Regions from separate parts of the Homo sapiens genome. Here region 2 is linked to region 1. The links come from fine-mapping of genetic effects on gene expression. A gene starts in region 1. The other region holds a variant in brackets. All regions are shown on one strand. Distances are from middle to middle. Region 1 holds the start of TREM2 (triggering receptor expressed on myeloid cells 2). Region 2 holds the start of LOC107986595 (a long non-coding RNA gene).

Region 1 (2,907 bases):
CTCCCTGCCCCGCCACTCTTGCTTGCTCTGCAGCCGCCCACATTGGTACCGACTTTCCTGACCTTTAACTTCCAGCTTCCCTATTTCTGTGGCTTTGTTCCCCTTTCAGGAAGGACCCGTCTCGGAGATATTTTGGGGGAGACATGAGGCTGCTATTTTGGGAACCCTCCTTAGGGCGGGGGAGATGGGCTTAGAGCACCAGCCTGTTGCTGGGGCAGCCCCCAGAGCCCCCTGCTTTGACTTCTCTCTTGGTCCTCCCTTGCCTGCCATCTTCAACCATTACTGTGACAGAGGCTTGAAAGATAGGATTGGGAAGTTGGTGGCTTGCCTTTTGGAACTAGAGAGACCAGATGGGCCGTGGCCCTCTCCCATCTGACCACCTCCCATCCATGCCTCAGAACCCCGCCTTCCCCCTGACCACCATCTAAGAAGCTGCAGGAACAAGACTCCATTTGGCACCGTCTCTCCTCTTGCCCAGGTTTGTCCAGTGCTCTGGGGGAGCAAAAGGTGCGCTTTCCTCAGCGGGAAGAAGCAATTGTGTACAAAAATTTGGTGTGTCAATTCCCCTCAACTCAGCAACGGAAATCTCTACGCTCCTCACCTCCCATCAAGAGCTGAGGACAAGGGGACCTTCAGAGCAGGGGAGAGAGTGCCCCAAAGATGCAGATGAACATCCTCAGGTTCTTTCCTCCTTTATAACTGTAGGGGCTCATAATTAGTGGCTTATAATTTCAGAGGCTATTACCAGTGCCAGTGCCCCCCAAAGCTTCCCCCAACTGCCAGCTAGTGCCTGGGATGCCACTGTTAGCACTCCTTCCCTTCCAATGCAACCAGAGTCCACCAGCCCCTTACATGTCCACATGCAGAAAGAGTCTGAGGGTAGGTTTTGATACTGGGGAGGGAAGGAGGGTGTGAAGAATATGGGCAGGGTGGGGAGGAGAGGAGTGCAGAACAGGGCACTCAGGCATGCGAGGACTGCCACCGCCTTCATAATTCACCCCAGGGCCCACCACCCGCGCCCCAACCACATGCTCAAAGTGAGGGAGAGAAGGCATCACAGGGCACGGAGGGGATCCTACCTGTGACAAAGAGTAAGATGAGCAGCCGGAGAGGCTCCATGCCACCCTTCCCCAGCCAAGGGCAGAAGCAGAGTGCCTTGTGCAAGATCTCGTCTTTCCCTTGAACTGCAGAAAAGAGAGGATCAGGCATGTCAGGCGCTGCCCACAGGAACTGGGCTCCTGGGGATTAAGCAATAGTCAGGACTGGGGTCTGGAGGCGGTGCAGGGTGGGGACAGAGGGGAGGAGGAGTCGGCCACTGCAGCCCTGGCAGAAGGAGGCTGAGTCTCCCAGACCTCTGAGAAGCCAGCCCACCCTCCTGCTGGTGCCAGCCAGGGTGGCCCCCAGATGGTTGGGGCTGGTAAGGCCCTGCACTGCTCAGTTTCCTTGCAGAGCCTAGCCCAGGGATCACTATCCTCACAGCTGTATTCAGACCCTCCACCAGCTGCAATGCCCGCCATCTTCTGGTTTCAGCCTTGCAAGAGTTGGAGAACAGCTGTGCCTTTAGAGGCCAGGACCCTCATCCAGCACCTCTTAGTTCATCCCCCCAGGGCTGTCATTCCTGTAGTGTGGCAGCAGTTAAGTACACAGCTCTGGAGCCAGACTTCCTGACTTTCTGGGTGTGTAACCACACATCCAAAACCTACCTGTGTCTGTTCCCTGATCTATACAGTGGGAATAATGATAGTGCAAAGGGTTATCAGGAGCACCATATGGGTTCCTACAGGTAAAGTGCTTTCCAGTAGGGCCTGACACACAGCATTCAACAAATACTAACTATTACCATTATCCTAGTTAGAAGGGAAAAGGGAAATGGGCTGTCCATAAGACAGAAAATTTTCTCTCCCACCTGGAATTTTCTGCCCAAGTTTAGCCTTCTTGGAACTGTTGGGTGTCTCCTGTGCACACATGCTCACACTGGTGTTTATTTTGTGCACACACATGCTTGAACTCCTGATCATCCTATCCTACAGGACAGGACAGGATATTTCTCAGAGTTCTGGGGGTAGGGGTGTGTTTTTCTACACGTACAGGTTCCCATGGTGATCCAAGCACAGGGACCCACGTGTGCAAAGGCACAAAAGTGTGAAATGGCCCAGTGAGTCGGGGATTGGATGGAGGAGGCTTGAGTCAATTCTAGGAGTGGGAAATGGAGTTGTGCTGGGAGTGGCAGAAGAGGCTGGAGAAGCCTGCAGGAGCCTGTAGATTATCAGGGTCTACTTTAGTTTCCTGCAAACACTCACTTATTTGTTCTTTTATTCATTTATTTACTCATATTTACTGTGCATCTAACTTACGGACAGGGAATGTGCTTGGAGATGGGGAATTCATAGTGAGGAGAAGACAGGCCTCCACTCAAAGGGCCAACTGCCCGGCCTTGCCCCAAGGGCCTGGGGGCTGAAGTCTGAGGCTGCCTGAAGATCACTCTGTAGGTACTCTTCTAGGGTCTTTTTCTAGAAGTCAGGTTTATTGGCCCATAATTTACATATACAAAAATTTACCCCTTTTAAATGTCTAGTTGTGTAAATGTTGACAAACTCATGCATCTCTATAACAACCACCACAATCACCATGTCTGTGTAACACAATACCATAATATAGAAAGTTTCATTTAGCTTAAGCGAGAGCCTTTGTGCCCATTTTAGCCAGTCTCTTTCTCTCCAATCCAGGGCCTGGCAACTACTAAGCTGACATCTGTTTCTGTAGCTTCCTGCCCTTCCTAAAATGTCATAGACATGGAATTAAATAGTATGTAGCCTCTTGGGTCAGTCTTTATTCACTCATCAGAATAAATTCAGCATGCGTGAAGTTTCACTTCTCAAGAATGTATTCCTTTTTATTGCTAAACCA
Region 2 (2,907 bases), 22 kb after region 1:
CTGTCTTTCCAATTTTTTGAACCAGGAGCTCCAGTGTGATTCACAATTTATCTACCACTTACACAAACACACTCATACACTCTCACACCCAGACACATATTCACACACACTCCTAAAATAAAAGTTTAACAAAAAAAGGGTAAAGCATTATGACATTATGCTCTTCTATTATGTTTTTATAAAAATCCTGTTGTGACCTATTAAATTGATTTTACACTGATTAAAAATAGGTATATAAAATTTTACAACCCACTGCTTTCTTTGGATTTTCATAGCTTGAATAATTAAAACCAATGAAGTCCAATATACCTCTGGCCCACTCCCACGTTTCAGTCTTTTTGTCAACAGAAACATCTTCAGTATAGGGCTATTGAGCACACAGTACCTATGTGTCAAACCAACCAACCAACATAAAACAGCAAGAAAGGAGGTAACATTCATTAAAGGGGACTAATCTGATAAATCTTAGACAAGATGCTACAGATTTCATATGTGATTAATGCTAAAAACTTAAAACTTTGAAGATTAAAAAGTCCTGGAAGTGCTTTTAGGAAGACGACATTTTTAAATGATAAAAACAATTAAAAAACAATACCATGAACCAGGAACATCTTTACATAGATTTGTTTTAAAAGTCTTAACCTAAAAGTTGGCAAAAAATACATGATCCAAAATGGATACTAGCACACCTAGTTGTAGACAAATTGGCACTGAGTTGAATTGGCTTTGGGTGAGCTGACCTGGAGCCTTAGAAGATGATGAGTCCACCGCCCTCAGGGCTGCCCAGGCTGTTGCTCTGGCAGAAGGAAGGGAAGCCATTTGGGGCTCCCAGGGGATCTTGGCCACTTTACTTCTCAGGCCTCAGTTTCCTAGTTGGTAAAATGAGCATAAGAATCCTTGTCCTCGATGAGTTCATGTCCTTGTAGGGACATGGATGAAGCTGGAAACCATCATTCTGAGCAAACTATCACAAGGACAGAAAACCAAATACCGCATGTTCTCACTTATAGGTGGGAATTGAACAATGAGAACACTTGGACACAGGGTGGGGAACATCACACACGGGGGCCTGCCGTGGGGTAGGGAGAAGGGGGAGGGATAGCATTAGGACATATACCTAATGTAAATGACGAGTTAATGGGTGCAGCACAGCAACATGGCACATGTATACATATGTAACAAACCTGCACGTTGTGCACATGTGTCCTAGAACTTAAAGTACAATAATAAAAAATAAAAAAAATAAAAAAACAATCCTTGTCCTCACGGCTCTCAGGCTGCCCTAGA[A/G]ATCGCTAAGCACTTGGCTGTCTGCTCAGAGCCAGTGACCAGGACTCACTTTCCTAGCTCTTCCTCGGGCTTTCTGGAGGTACCGGTTGATGAGGAGGGCAAGCAGCAGCAGCAGCAGCACAACGGTCACTGCCACACCCAGGATGATGGACTTGACTGGGGGGCTTTGGAATAAGGACCCGCCTGATGAGGAAAGTCAGAGCCCAGACCAACCTCCTGCCCTGAAATTCATCCCTCCTGCCATGCCTGTTGTCACCACAGGCCCTCCCCAGCTTCTAGCCTGTCCTCTGAGGTCTCCTTCGGCTCAGCTGACCAGTAGGCAGCCATGTGATCAGGGGCTCTTCCCCACAAACCATGTTGTCTAGGGTAAGCCATTCCACCTCAGGGTCGGTTTCTTTCTGTGCAAAACTGCTATCTCAAGTCCTTGCTCTTTCCCTTTTGCAATTGTTATCCCTTGGCTTTCTATCTGGGCCCCTATTGCAGGGTCTCCACCCAGCTCTCCTGGCACCCTTTGCTTCACATTTCTGTCTCAGGTCCTTAAGCTCAACCCTTCTCTAGGAAATGCAGTGAGCTCTCAGAGTATACTGATGTCATTGACAAATAGCTCTCCCAGATAAAAAATACATTTTAATAGGTCCCATTTTAAGTCAAAGGAAGAACACAGAGGTAGACTGTTTTATACCATAGCAGGCTTTTAGGGAAGGTGTCTGGGTTGTCAGATGTCAAAGGGGGAGGACAAGCAGTTCAGGAACATCTCTCAGCTCAGGTGATCAGCACCCCTTGGTTTCTGGTTTAATCTCTTGATGCAAGAAAGTATGGTTTGCAAGAGCCCAGCATTCATCATCTGGAGTGATGGTGGATGGAGAGAAGGGAGGGGAGGACAGAGGCAGGAAGACACTGTCAGTGCCCGTGGCTGGGGCCTGGAAACCATCAGGCAGAGGTAGAAAACAAAGCAGGCCACAGGTTGTGGTAACTACACAGTGTGCCCTTTCCCTAGACCCACAGTACTCTGGAATAGCTCTCCTGCTCACGGACAAGGGCTGGAAGGAGGACAGAGGTGAAAGAAACAGCCCTGGTCATGTGCTATGAATTGAACTGGGCCCTTCAAGTCCGTATTTTCCTTGAATCTTCACAACAACCCTGTAAGAAAAAGGTTCCTGTCCCCCTCCCTTGGCCCTGCTCCCCTTCCCCTCACCTGAGGCCAGGAGCACCAGCAGAACTCTCAACAGCAGGTGTGTGGCCTCCAAGGTCATGGGTCCTCTTCTTGAGCCGGGATGGTGGGAGGAAAGTGAGGCAGCGGGGAAACCCTGGGGAGCGGGAACCAGCGCTGGCAGGATCCGGCCCTGGGGATGAATTGCTGAGGAAGTCAAAGTCTCCCTTGAGGAAGCAGGAGGCCTGGAAGGAAGGGGGACGCCTTGGCCTACACGAGCCCCTCCAGCTGCAGGCTCTACATCCGGGCCTGGAAAGGCCTCAGCCTATACTCTGTAGCTCCTGCTGGTTTCCTCTGGCCCCAGCCTCTTCCCACTTGTCAGGCCACCTCCCTCCCACTGGCGCTGGGGTGGGAAAAGCTGAGAAAGTCCAGGAGGAAACTATGGCGAAATAAAAACCTCTTTCTCCTCT

What was found.
Region 2: its variant is fine-mapped to the expression of TREM2 in blood mononuclear cells (TOPMed, PIP 0.98).

What each region holds. Positions count from the first base shown.
Region 1 is chr6:41,161,964-41,164,870 of GRCh38, forward strand. TREM2 (triggering receptor expressed on myeloid cells 2) reads right to left here and starts at 1,153. Exons shown (of 5, transcript NM_018965.4): 1 at 1,080-1,153. The coding sequence starts at 1,119.
Region 2 is chr6:41,183,495-41,186,401 of GRCh38, forward strand. It overlaps LOC107986595 (a long non-coding RNA gene), which reads right to left and starts at 2,895. Exons shown (of 3, transcript XR_001744118.2): 1 at 2,483-2,895. The variant A/G (reference allele first, on the strand shown) is at 1,288.